Linked DNA regions of Homo sapiens. The protein of the gene in region 1 purifies or fractionates together with the protein of each later gene. This does not show direct contact. Each region holds a gene or a part of one and is shown in the gene's direction. Other genes may lie near its edges.

What was found. Proteins that work in one complex are often made in the same cells at the same time.
Region 2: the proteins of SLC8A2 (region 1) and MYH10 purify together in Homo sapiens (affinity purification with mass spectrometry; one large-scale study listed by BioGRID and IntAct). This does not show direct contact.
Region 3: the proteins of SLC8A2 (region 1) and MYO5A purify together in Homo sapiens (affinity purification with mass spectrometry; one large-scale study listed by BioGRID and IntAct). This does not show direct contact.
Region 4: the proteins of SLC8A2 (region 1) and MYO1D purify together in Homo sapiens (affinity purification with mass spectrometry; one large-scale study listed by BioGRID and IntAct). This does not show direct contact.

The regions. Positions count from the first base shown.
Region 1 is NC_000019.10:47,458,394-47,461,893, reverse strand, and holds part of SLC8A2 (sodium/calcium exchanger 2 precursor), read left to right. Parts: intron 1-3,500. UniProt on the Homo sapiens protein: Mediates the electrogenic exchange of Ca(2+) against Na(+) ions across the cell membrane, and thereby contributes to the regulation of cytoplasmic Ca(2+) levels and Ca(2+)-dependent cellular processes.
Region 2 is NC_000017.11:8,508,726-8,512,225, reverse strand, and holds part of MYH10 (myosin-10), read left to right. Parts: intron 1-1,040; exon of another isoform or gene 1,041-1,100; intron 1,101-2,276; coding exon 2,277-2,414; intron 2,415-3,137; exon of another isoform or gene 3,138-3,475; intron 3,476-3,500. UniProt on the Homo sapiens protein: Cellular myosin that appears to play a role in cytokinesis, cell shape, and specialized functions such as secretion and capping. Involved with LARP6 in the stabilization of type I collagen mRNAs for CO1A1 and CO1A2.
Region 3 is NC_000015.10:52,518,881-52,522,380, reverse strand, and holds part of MYO5A (unconventional myosin-Va), read left to right. Parts: intron 1-3,500. UniProt on the Homo sapiens protein: Processive actin-based motor that can move in large steps approximating the 36-nm pseudo-repeat of the actin filament. Can hydrolyze ATP in the presence of actin, which is essential for its function as a motor protein. Involved in melanosome transport.
Region 4 is NC_000017.11:32,755,125-32,758,624, reverse strand, and holds part of MYO1D (unconventional myosin-Id), read left to right. Parts: intron 1-2,962; coding exon 2,963-3,133; intron 3,134-3,500. UniProt on the Homo sapiens protein: Unconventional myosin that functions as actin-based motor protein with ATPase activity. Plays a role in endosomal protein trafficking, and especially in the transfer of cargo proteins from early to recycling endosomes.

The DNA.
Region 1 (3,500 bases):
GTGCCCTCCCAGGCTGGACACATTCTTAGTGGGTGCTCTAGAAAGACATTGTGAATCGGCTAGAATCACTTTTTATTGACCTGCAGGGAGGAAGGAAAATCTTAGGGGTTTGGGATTGTCTTCTGATGAATAGAGACTTCCTTGCAATATACATAATGGTAGGTTCAATTAATACAAGGGAGAGAGTTCATTTCACAGCTTGCGCTGAACATTCGGCTCCTTTTCCCAAATCTGCCTGTTGGCTTCATGCAGTTTTACTATTTGCAAGTCTTGACTGTTCTCTGAGCCAGCAGTAAACACAGTGATAGCAGGTGTGGCAACTGGATCTTAGATATTTTTCCTACCAGGCTCATTTTTAAGATACTCTGGGGGCCTTCTTTTTTTCGAGATGGAGTCTCACTCTGTCCCCCAGGCTGGAGTTCAGTGGTGTAATCTCAGCTCACTGCAACCTCCGCCTCCTAGATTCAAGTGATTCTCCTGCCTCAGCCTTCCTAATAGCTGGAATTACAGGCGCACGCCACCACACCTGGCTGATTTTTGTATTTTTAGTAGAGATGGGGTTTCACCATGTTGGCCAGGCTGGCCTTGAACTCCTGAGCTCAAGTGATCCACCCACTTTGGCCTCCCAAAGTGCAGGGATTATAGGCGTGAGCCACTGTGCCTGGCCTTCGGGGGCCTTGTCATCGTAAATACTCTTTTTTTTTTGAAACAGAGTCTCGCTCGGTCGCCAGGCTGGAGTGCAGTGGGGTGATCTCAGCTCACTGCAACCTCCGCCTCCCGGGTTCAAGCGATTCTCCTGCCTCAGCTTCCCAAGTAGCTGGGATTACAGGCGCCTGCCACCACGCCCAGCTAATTTTTGTATTTTTAGTAGAGACGGGGTTTCACCATGTTGGCCCTCGTGATCCACCCACTTCCGCCTCCCAAAGTGCTGGGATTACAGGCATGAGCCACCACGCCTGGCCCATAAATACTCTTTTATCTTTTCTTCTTCATCTTTGATGAGAAAGGTAACATTTGAGTCTTTCCATGAATATCTTCAAGGCAAACCCTCGAGTCTTGGTGGATGCTTTCCATGTGCCAGGCCTGTGCTGGGCCACCAGCAGACTGAGTCTTAGGCCTCTGCAAGCCCAAGATAATAGTACTAAATAATAACGATGGCGATGTTCTTTTTTTTCTTTTTCTTTCTTTTTTTTTTTTAAGATGGAGTCTCATTCTGTCACCCAGGCTGGAGTGCAGTGGCGTGATCTCGGCTCACTGCAACCTCCCCCTCCTGGGCTCAAGCAATTCTCCTGCCTCAGCCTCCCGAGTAACTGGGACTACAGATGCACACCACCATGCCTGGCTAATTTTGTATTTTTGGTAGAGATGGGGTTTCACCATGTTGGCCAGGCTGGTCTCGAACTCCTGGCCTCAGGTGATCCACCCACTTTGGCCTCCCAAAGTGCTGGGATTACAGGCGTGAGCCACCACGCTTGGCCAGGCAATGTTAATTTCACATCTTGAGTCTTTTCCATGTGTCAGAAACTGAGAATGCTGTGCACTAGGAATGCAGGTGCTCATTCAGTCTTGGAAATGTCCCCATTGTATAGACCAAGAGATGAGACAGCCATCCCTGTGGTAAAGCCAGGCTCCCAACTCAGAGCTGCCCTGGCTGTGCATGGGAACTGGTTTTATGAGGCAGAAGAGCCAGATGTGTGTCTCTGTTAGAGACACAGCCTGTCCATGAGGGCCAGGCAAATGCTAAGGAGGCACTGGTAGGGGTCATGGGTGGGGCACTGAGGGCGTTTGGGTGAACAGAGAGCAGGCCCTGGATGATGGGCGAGGTTTGGAGAAGTGGAGGCACCCCCAGGTGATGGGGGAGAAATGGAGCAGGCAGAAAAAAGATGGAGGGAGAGAGAGGCCAGAAGACACACAGGCTCTGTCCCTTGACAGCAGCTGGGACCACAGGGTGGGGATTGTCTGTTGCTTGGTAGTGGATGAGGATGTCCGGGTTCCTGGCACCTGGGCAGCTGGGCATGGTTCTCAGCATCTAAAAGGTGGATAGATGGATGAAGAGACTAGGAGAGAAAGAGAACACATACACACATGTGCGCACACACACACACAGATGGACACACATGCACACACATGCACACAGATGGACACACACGTACACATACACACACAGACGTACACACATGCGCGCACACACAGAAGGACACACCCATGCACACACACACATGCACACACACAGAAGGACACACACACAGATGGACACACGCACATACACATACACACATGCACACACAAGCACGCACACACAGGACACACACACGCACATACACATATACACATGCACATACGCTCACACATGCGCACACACGCGCACGCACGTGCACACACACAGAGATGGGGAGCAAGAGAGAGAGGGAGGGAGAGAGAGAAAAGTAGCTCTGGAGAAACACAGATACTGAGAAAGAGAAAGAAACTCACAAGGGAGGGAAATAGATATCTACCAATAGATACAAAAGAAGGAGATGGAGCCAAGGAGACCGAGGCAACAAGAAAAGAGAGGGAGCCAGGGAGAGAGACAGAGGAGGAGGAAAGGCTAAGAAAACCGCTGAGACAGAGGCAAGGAGGGAAAGAGACAGCAGCACACGCAGAGAGCGATGGAGAGAGGCAGAGACGAACAGGGACAGAGAGAGAGAGAACGAGATGGAGAGAGAGAAATGTGGGGGAGATGGGGAGAGGCCACAGACAAAAAGGGAGGACAGAGTTAAAAAGAGATGGGAGGAAGGGGAGGGAGAGAGATGGGGAGAGGCAGAGGTGAACAGAGATGAGAGGGAAATAGAGAATAAGTGAGGAACAGAGAGACAGAGATGGAGAGGAACGGGAGCAAGGAGAGAGAGAGAAAAGGGGGTGGGGAGAGATAGGGAGAGGCAGAGATGAGCAGAGACAGAGACAGAGGGGGCGAACAGACAGAACAAGATGGAAAGGGGTGGGAGAAAGGAGAGAGAGAGATGGGGAGAGAGAGGTGAACAGAGACAAGAGGGAAATAGAAACTAAGAGAAGGACAAGGGAAAGGAGAGAGAGAAACGGTGACGGGAGAGGGGAAAAAATTAGCTCTGGAGAAACACAGGTATTGAGAGAGAAAAAGAAAGAAACTCACAAGGGAGGGAGATGGAGATCTACCAGGATATAACAGGACATGGAGACACGTCCAGACATGGGGAGAGGCAAGAGCCAAACAGAGACAAAAAGGGAGGGACAGAGATAGAAAGAGATGGGGGGAAGGAGAGAGAGAAATGGGGGGAGAGAGATGGGGAGAGGCAGAGATGAACAGAGACAAGAGGGAGGTTGAGAGAAACTAAGAGAGGGACGGAAAGGAGAGAGAAATGAGGAGGAGAGAAGTGGGGGAGAGGCAGAGATGAACAGAGACAGAACAAGATGGAGAGGGAAAGAGAGAAATGGGGGGAAACGGAGAACTCGGGGGAGAGAGATGGGGAAAGGCAGACATGAAG
Region 2 (3,500 bases), on another chromosome or scaffold:
AAGTGGCATCTTACAGTTTGCAAAGAGATTCACAGTCGCAAACCTCCCAGGATCTATAGCATTCTGTAGAAGACCTAACTTGTTCTTCATGTTGTCAGTGATTCTGTTGCTCACTCCATTCATTAGATAGACATCTACTACGTGGTTTGGCTAATAAGAAACGCTCAGCACTGACATAGGAGGTGGCCAACAGTCAGAATGAGAATTTTTAAAAATTAGCCCTTCCCTGGTACTTAACTTTCTTTTTGAAATACAGGCTGTACTCATGAGGCACAATTTTTGGATTGTGATTGAAACAGACAAATGTGCTTTTTAAATGGTCTTTATATTTTAGAGGTACAGCCTGAAGGTTTTACAAGTGAAATATGATGTCTGGGATTTGCTTCAAAATAACCTAGGGGGAGAAGGGAGCAGGTGGAGGCACACATGAAATGGAATTGACCATGAGTTGATGCTTGTTAAGGTCAAGGTGATGCTTCTGTGTGGGGCTTATTATGCTGGTCTGTGTGCTTGTATGTGTGTTTGAAATTTTTACAAGAAAACACTCATTTTTTGCCATGGTTTCATTCTAAAATTAACGATGAGTAAATTATTTAGCCGAAGTTACTCTTGAACATTTCCTTAAGTTGGCCATGTGTTGATTTGTACAACCCTAGTTTTGGTTTTTTGGGGTTTGTTTTTGTTTTTGTTTTTTTGTTCTGTTTTTGAGACGGAGTCTCGCTTTGTTGCCCAGGCTGGAGTGCAATGGCGCAATCTCGGCTCACTGCAACCTCCACCTCCTCGGTTCAAGTGATTCCCTTGCCTCAGCCTCCCCAGTAGCTGGGATTACAGGCGCCTGCTACCACGCCCAGCTAATTTTTGTATTTTTAGTAGAGACGAGGTTTCACCACGTTGGCCAGGCTGGTCTCGAACTCTTGACCTCAGGTGATCCACCCACCTCGGCCTCCCAAAGTGCTAGGACTACAGGCGTGAGCCACTGCGCCCAGCCTGGGTTTTGTTTTGTTTAACTTTTTTTTTAATTTCGTTTTTTGGAGGGGATGGGAGCTTTCCACCAGAAACCAGAAATCCTGCTAGACAAATTCTAAAAGAGCTGTAACACTTTGTTTTTAATTTTAATTTTTATGCGTATATATTAAGTGTGTGTGTGTGTATGTATGTATGTGTGTATATATATATATATATATATATATATATATATATATATATATATGGGGTACATGAGATGTTTTGATACAGGCATGTAGTGTGTAATAATCACCTCATATAAAATGGGGTAATCTATCTGTGATCCTGTGTAATAGCATGTTTATCATAAACAGTAATGTAGATTATAAAGATCTGCACGTTCTAATAAAAATACATGTAAACTCTATGCTCCCGCCCAGTTTGATGAGGTGCTTCTGCTGTGAAAGGTACACTTGAACTGAGACAGCTCATTTCTCACGACCTGTACTATTTAAATTATTGTTTTCATGTTCTCTTTCTCTCTTCTTTGGCCGAACATGTATATAGTTGGATTCAGCTAAATTAAATACACATTTGATGAGTGCTACTACATTATTCATGTTTGTCTGTGTTGCTATTATTCCAAAATGTGAATTTTAATTACTATATATTATTCCATTTAACAAATGTGCCAACATTTAATTACCAAGACCTTTTTGTAGCATGTTCATAGTTACTCAATATTATAAATAACTTATCACTGTATGTCTTTTTATATAAATTGCATCTGTGACAATTTCCTGAAATTGCTGGTTGAAAGGAAAGGCTCATTTTTAAAGCTATGTTTTGCCATGTTGGCTTCTAGAAGGATTGACCCAGTTTGTACTTTAGCCTGTAGCGGATACAAATGTCTATTTCACATAACTGCATTTCATATTTTTTTAAATATCCTTGGCATTTTGAGAATCAAAAATTAGTATCTAGGCTGAGGCGGATGGATCATGAGGTCAGGAGATCAAGACCATCCTGGCTAACATGGTGAAACCCCATCTCTACCAAAAAAAAAATCAAAAAATTAGCCGGGCGTGGTGGCGGGCACCTGTAGTCCCAGCTACTCGGGAGGCTGAGGCAGGAGAATGGCGTGAACCCAGGAGGTGGAGGTTGCAGCGAGCCGAGGTGGCACCACTGCACTTCAGCCTGGGCAACAGAGCGAGACTCCGTGTCAAAAAAAAAAAAAAAATTAGTATCTCATTGTAATGCATTCCTGTGCACAATGAATGTGTGGTCAAATCTCGAGAAAGTGGCGAGACTGACTGTGTGTTCTTCACAAGGACCTGGAAGAACAGCTAGACGAGGAGGAAGGGGCTCGGCAAAAGCTGCAGCTGGAAAAGGTGACAGCAGAGGCCAAGATCAAGAAGATGGAAGAGGAGATTCTGCTTCTCGAGGACCAAAATTCCAAGTTCATCAAAGTAAGAGAGTGTTCCCACAAAAAGCTGATTTTAGTTACAGAAAATATTTATATAATATTATGTTGATACACTCATTGAAAGTGAACTCAAACAGAAATTTCTCAAGATTTTAGGTTCATTTACTGAATTTTCTCTGTAAGTCTCTACTTGTATAGATTTCTAAAGATACAGGCACCATTGAATTTTTTAAACCTTATCAAATATCCTGATAATCTTTTAGACTTGTAACATGTGCAGTTTGTGCATAATGGTCACTCAATGATGACTTGTCTCCATCTGTGCAAGCATTAATTCATCCACCATTGACTGTGGGACTCTGAATACCAGGCAGCTGGGCCAAGCTCCCGGGGTGGGCACCAAGACGTGTAAGCCTTTCTGCCCTTTTGGAGTACAGTCGTGTGTTGTTTAACGATGAGGACACATTCTGGGAAATGCATTGTGAAGTTATTTTATCCTCGTACAAACATCATAGAGTGTATGGACACAAACTAGATGGTAGAGCCTGCTATACACCTAGACCAGACGCTGGGCTGATTGCATCTAGGCCACACACTTGTACAGCATGTTACTGTCCTGAATACTGTAGGCAGTTGGAACACAGTGCTAATAAGTACTTGTGTATCTAAACATATCCACACAAAAGTCCAGTAAAAATATGATAGAAAAGGTACGGTAAAAATGATAGAAAAGATTTAAAATGGCACACCTCTATTGGGCACTCACCATGAACGGAGCTTGCAGGACTGGAAGCTGCTCTGGGTGAGTCAGTGAGTGAGCGCTGAGTGAATGTGAAGGCCTAGGACATTGCTGTACATGACTGCAGACTTTATCAACATGGCACACTGAGGCTGCAGTACATTTATTTTAAAAATAGAGTAATTGCACTGTGGTGTTATGACAGCTCTCGATGAAGTTTTCAGCTCCATGATCATCTTAGGAGACCACTGTCGTGTATCCGGTTCATCATTGTCCAAAACATCGTTCTGCAGCATGTGATTGTGTACAGTCTGCTGGGGGAGGCAGTGCCGATAGAACTTATTTTCTCTCGAGTCAAAGTTGACCTTTATGAGGAATACAGAACCCAAG
Region 3 (3,500 bases), on another chromosome or scaffold:
ACCACCCCACTCCCAATCTTTCATCAACTTTATTGAGGTATAATATACTTGAAAAGTCCCTCATTTTAAGTGTACAGTTTGATGAGTTTTGACACATATATTCTGTCATGTAACCACCGCCACAAACAAGATGCAGAACATTTCCATCACCCCAAAAGTTCCCTTGTGCTTTGTCTCTTATCTTCCCCAACATCTTCAGGGAGTTTACTGGAGTTATGCTTGCTCATTAGGGCAGAAGGAAGTTTTTTCTTTTTGGTTTTTCCGAAATGAATGCTATGGTTCCACCTTAGCCCAACCAATAGAGATACTTATTACAAAGGCCTGGCATTGGAGATCATGGCTGTGGAGTTTCATTTTCAGTGGGAGGCGGAAGTGGATATAAAAGGAGTTTAGATGATTTTTGTTTAATCTTTCCTTCACACACTGACCACTTTGCCTTTATTAATGATGTCTGCCTTTGATGCCTTCTGAAATGCCCTTTGGTTAATTTTGCCCTTTAACGGTTCCTCTTCCCCATCTGTCTTGGTTGTAACATCAGTCTGAGTTTGTGCTGATACAACCTAAACTTTGCAGAAACTTATCCCTGGCTCTTCATGCCTCAGGCATTCTCCATTTCTCTTCTAAGCCCTCCTCACTTGGAATTCTTTTTAACTAGCAGGCATTAGCGTTAAATATCTCCTTGTACAGCAAAGGCTTTTTGCCAATTGTAGAACTTAGGGATGATGTAATTATTTTTTGATTTCAAAATAATGGTTCTAAACTTGATTGAAATCAAGGGAGAAGTGCATTGTACATAATGCACTAAGTGTTCATGAGGACCATGTATCTACCTCCTGTGGCCTAATGTACTACTGTGGCCAAAAATGTGGGCAAGATGCTGGGCTAGAGGGAGACTGGATGCACAAAAAAGATAGGTTTTGTCCATCTTTTGTCACATATACAAAAACATATAGTCCTGGCCAGGAATCCTGCATGTGTGGTTGGGGTTTCTACTTCTTGACAAATGTACATGAAACTAGAGAAATTTCAGAATAGGAGAAGTAAAATGATCAGGGCAGTGAAGAGGCTAGACAGATTAAAGGTGTCGAACTCTCTAGTTTAGAAAGATGAAGGTGAGCTGGGAATACAGTAGAGGTTTTTTTTTTTTTTTTTTGAGACAGAGTCTCGCTCTGTCACCCAGGCTGGAGTGCAGTGGCGTGATCTCAGCTCACTGCAACCTCTGCCTCCTGTGTTCAATCGATTCTTCTGCCTCAGCCTCCCGAGTAGCTGGGACTACAGGCATGTGCCACCACCCCTGGCTAATTTTTGTATTTTTAGTAGCGATGGGGTTTCACAGTACTGGCCAGGCGGGTCTCGAACTCCTGACCATGTGATACGCCTGCCTCGGCCTCCCAAAGTGCTGAGATTACTGGCGTGAACCACTGTGCCCAGCCCTATAGTAGACTCTTTGACATCCAGAATAGTGGAAGTTTGTAACATCAAATCTCAGTTTAGTAGGGATATGTTTTAGATCTTGAAACAAATCAATATATGCCATTTTAAATGAATTTCTACTTTAAACATTTACATTTTACATTTCTGAAACTCATCACTTCAAGTTATGGTATTAGCTGAGGTACAGGATGTAAATAGAGAGGGTCTGGGTAATTTATGGATGAGAGGTTTGGCACATTGACTTACCAAACCTCTCTTTAACAGTGTTAGTCAGTTTACCAGCCACAGCTGTTTTAGTTGGAAGAAACAGAAACCCAAACTCAAAGCCAAAGAGGAGTTTATTTGCTCATGTGACTTAAAAATCTAGGCATGGCTGGAATCAAGGCTCAGACATGGTCATTGGGGCTCTCTTCACTGACTCTCACATGCTGTCTGACATTGGTTTCATCCTGAGGGCAGCTTTTTTTAGGGGTGAAAAGATGGTCAGTGGCACCTGCAGATCACATGATCTTACAGCACTGGGCCTGGAGGAAGAGAGCCTGATAGAGGAATTCTGGTCATGTGCCTTCTCCTTTCATTGGGCCTCTAGGCAGTAGGTGAGGAGCACCATGAGTGGTCAAGTCTGTGCTCACCCCAGAGACCAGGGGGAGGACAGGGCACTGTGATTGATAGTCCTACTCCAACCTCATGGGATGGCTGTGAGCTGTTCGCCATTGGAAGGAAAAGTGCTAGGTAGTCAAAATAAACAACTACCCTCAGTCCATGTATGCTATGAATAGGTCACTGAAAATGATAGTCATGGAATTCTACCCCTCCTTTTCTGATCTTTGAGCAAGAAGAATGGGAAATTTTGCTTGACCGGGGACATTAGGTATCTTTCCCCTAGAGAATCATTTTGGATTGAAAAATAGAAGCCAGGCCAGGTGCGGTGGCTCATGCCTGTAATCCTCAGCACTTTGGGAGGCCAAGGCGGGCGGATCATGAGGTCAGGAGCTTGAGACCAGCTTGGCTAACACGGTGAAACCCTGTCTCTACTAAAAATACAAAAATTAGCCGGGCGTGGTGGCGTGTGCCTGTAATCCCAGCTACTCAGGAGGCCGAGGCAGGAGAATCGCTTGAACCCGGGAAGCAGAGGTTCCAGTGAGTTGAGATCGTGCCGGTGCACTCCAGCCTGGGCGACAAAGCAAGACTCTGTCTCAAAAAAAAAAGCCATGGAGCGTCTGTGCAAGCAAATGTTACTAATAGCATGTTAGAAATTGAAATTTTGAAAATTTATTCAGTCTTCAATTTTGATTTTTCATGTATTATTATTATTATTATTATTATTATTTTTTTTAGACAAGGTCTCGTTCTGTTGCCCACACTAGAGTGCAGTAGCGCAAGCATAGCTCACTGCAGCCTCGAACTCCTGGGCTCAAGCAGCCCTCCCAGCTCAGCCTCCTGAGTAACCGGGACTGTAAGCGCATGCCACCATGCCTGGCTAATTTTTTAATTTTTGTAGAGACAGAGTCTCACTTTGTTTCTCAGACTAGTCTCAAACTTTTGGCTTCAAGCAATCTCCCACTTAATTATCCCAAAAGTGCTGAGATTATAGGCGGGAGCTACCATGCCCGGCCATTATTCAGTCTTAATTTGGGGGCTATGAACCCTATGTCACCTTTCTTACTGATTTCTTTCTACCGTATTTCCTCAGCATTTTATTTCCCCTATTTTCTTCACATCCTTGCTTGCATACGTTATTCTCTTCCCCTATTTTCATACATAGATAAGTTGCACGATTTCTTATTGCACAACAGTAAGAATTGTGCACAATTTCTTTTTGCCTGTCCGTCATTCCTTGTTCATGTCTAGTGGTAGTCTGTCTTCTGTTCTCTTCCTTCCACCTGTTCATCTGCTTTATCCCCCTACTATTTAATTTTATCTACCCACCCCTTATGCCCTGTTATGATTTGTTATAACGAAGTATATATACATCCCACACCTATAATGGAATAAAATAAGTTACTAAAGGGTGAATCTTTTTTTCATAACTTAGATTGAGGAGGGAACTTCATTTTTGTTTTTGC
Region 4 (3,500 bases), on another chromosome or scaffold:
CAGTTGATTGCCAGTCTTATGCCATCTGTACTATACCCACCTACTCCCAGATTATTTTGAAGCAAATTTCAGATATCACATTATTTCATCTATTCAATTGGGTATCTATTCAGTAAATATTTCCATGTATTTCTCTAAGAGAGTTTTACAAAAACCATAATCACAATGCCATTATCATACCTAAAACATTAACAAAAATTCCTTAATATCATAAAATATCCAGTCAGTATACATGTTTCATATTTCCTTAATTGTCTTCTGGTTGTTGTTTTGCAGGTTAAATTTGGATCCAAATAAGTTTCTTACATTATGATTGATTGATAGGTCTCTTGCATATCTATAGATTTTCTCCATGTTTCTTTTTTTCCTTGAATGATCTCTCTTTGCAATCTTGTGTTGAAGAGAATGAGTCATTTGTTATGGAGTTCCCCACAGTCTGGATTTTGCTAATTGCATTCCTCAGGTGCCATTTAATATGTTTCTCTGTTTCTTGTATGTCCTGTATATTGGTTGTTAGATCTAGAGTCTTGACTGGATTCAGAGTCAGTTTTTTTCCACAGCCCATTTCATAGACTGTGTGTGAACTTCCACCAGGAGGTTCATAATGTCTGGTTATCTGGTACATTCACTTTTAAAAGCTTTCGATGCTGTAGTTTGCAAATCATTTTAACTATTGAGAACTTGATACTCAAGCACAAAGCTGTTTTATCTGGAGTGGGTATGAAAGGCCAGAGCCCCATGTCCCTAAGCTACCCCATCACAAGTCTTCTGGCTCCTGGTATCCCTTAGGAAACCTTACGGGAATGCCAAGTTGCTGGAAGAACTTAGTTTGAAAACTACTGGTTTAAGCAATGTTTGAAGCAGTATTAAACTTACAAACTGAAAGTTACTAGCAGAGACCAATAGCTTTTAATAATATAATTGGGATTTTAGGGAAGGTAATTCTTTAGTCCCTGGGACAAAAGACTTCGTCTTTAATTTCACAGTCCCGAAGTCTAAGATGTCAACTATTAATATAGAGCTCCTGCTTTTTGAGTATTTTTAGGATTTTTTTTCCAAAGATGGAAATAACTTTTCTCCCTAATTAGAAATGTAATAAATGCCCATAATGAAAGTAAATATTTAGACCTACACTGCTTCACCTCAGTACTACTGAGATTTTGTGCCAGATAGTTCTTTGTTGTGGAGGCTGTTCTATGCATTGTAGGATGTTTAGCAGCACCCCTGGCCTCTACCCACCAAATGACAGTAGCACCCCTACCCCATTTTGACTAGAAATGTCTCCTGATATTGCCAAATGTCCCCTGGTGAGCAAAATTCCCCCTATTCCCCTATTTGAGAAACTTTAGTTTAGACAGATCAGAAAAGTATAAAAAACAAAGTAAAAACTACCCAGTTTACAGGTTTCAGTCCATAAGATACAGAAGAGAACATGCAAGACTAGAAATGGAGCTAAAAGCCATGTACAAATAACTGGCATAAAACCTTGGATTTTAAAGCATGAAATGGGAATACATGAGTCACTTGAATGGTCTATTATGAGTATATAGACCTTATAGAAGGTAATGGAGACAGCAATCAGTTTAGGTAACTCCTGCGTAAGATGGGACATAGCAAGATTAAACTGTGTGATCATAAGCTGCCCCTCTTTGAGATGTGCAGCTTGCCTGAGTTGGCCTTTCTTTGTGTGCCTTCTGTGTGTAGTGATAGGTACATTGCAGGCTGTCAGAATAAACAGGTGTGGCAGAGGATTGTTGGACAAACCTTGTACATGTATAGTTGCTGAAAAGCCAGAAGTTATTTATAACTTCATTCACCTTGTGGAAGTAAAGGAAAAGCTTTTTCTTATCTTTTATAGATATTTATTTCTCAGAATTAAATTCTTTATATTATGCCTAGAAAAATGTAAAAATTCTACTGAATTTTTTCAAATTGTTCAAAATTCTATTGAAGCTTTTTAACTTTGGGGAAACCAAAAGAAATGCTCTTTTGGATTTTAGTCATTCAGGGTCATGTAACTAAAAATGCAAGTTCTTTTTTTTTTTTTTCCGTTTTAAGTGGAGTTTATTTAACACTAAGAGATAAAGGGTTGTTAACAAACACAATGACAAATGGACATCTGATTGGGATGAGGCATTATCCTGTACACATAATGTTGATATTTTTGTGTACCCTCAGTGCATGGCATTTACACATAGAGCCACTACTGCACAGCACAAGAGTATCTGAAGAGGCTGAATCAGAGTAAGGCTGTTTAAAAGACTGAAATTTTTTAGTATATATATTCTGCATGAAAACAGAACTTTTGAACTGGCAGGTAGAAGGCAACTCTGCCAAACACTACAGTTAAAGCCCCCACTTTAGTGCACAGTTCCACCCCTTCCATCTGCATGCGTGACACATTAACAGTATTTAAAGGTAAACGAGGCACTTTGTGGCAACTGCAGCCATCGTTATGAACATATTGCACAAAATTTCTAGAACTAAACATTTAACTTGTACCCTACTTTTATAAAATTGCAAGTTTTGTGTAGTACCTTAACTTTATTATGAAGTAGTATATCAGATAATACTTTAAGGTTATTTGTTGGCCCTTTGTGGAAGGTGGACCTTACAGTTAATGGCAGGCAGATTGGTATGAAGGAGTAGGGTTGGGTGTGGGATCTGGAGGCAGGATTAAAATGAGTTTGTAATGGGAGAAATGGTGTCTACCTTATTATCTTTGCCTTGGGCTGTACTAATCTCAGACGGTGTATTTCATGATAGAAAGTTAACAAAGAAATTTAAAAATAAACCTCTGTTAGAATGTGTACTCTTTTTAGCGTAAGACCTCTTTAATGTTATTCACACATTTGACACCAAAGTAGTTTTACCTGAACTCCTGATACAAATGGGAGCATCAGGGTTTAACCTGGCCTGGTCACTGTTCTCTTCAGAATTCCCTCCTTGCTGTGTCCTACAGATTGACTACTTCAACAATCAGATCATTGTTGACCTCGTGGAGCAACAGCACAAAGGGATCATTGCAATCCTTGATGATGCTTGCATGAATGTCGGCAAAGTCACCGATGAAATGTTTCTTGAAGCACTTAACAGTAAATTGGGCAAACACGCCCATTTTTCCAGCCGAAAGGTAATGTGTTTAATGACACCTTCTTCCTTTTATCTGTGAGGTTCTCCTTATTGTTTGATGGAGTTCAACGACTTTATATGTTGGGATAAAAGAATGTCCCCTTTAATAAGAAAGAAAAGTCATAAACATTCATTAAATGATTTGTTGCTGTGGATAAATTCTGCCTCTCTGGTTTATAGTATGAAGAAATTGATAAAATCATGTTAATCCAGGAGAGGGAGCTCCAGACTATGCAATTTGGTAGAAACAGGAAAAATGAGCATGATTCTTTAGAAAGCATGATGTCATTTGTAACCAATAGATGTAGAGTCCTTGCTCATGTGCTAGAATTTTACTCCTGCATCTGATAATTCTGGCATGGAAAATA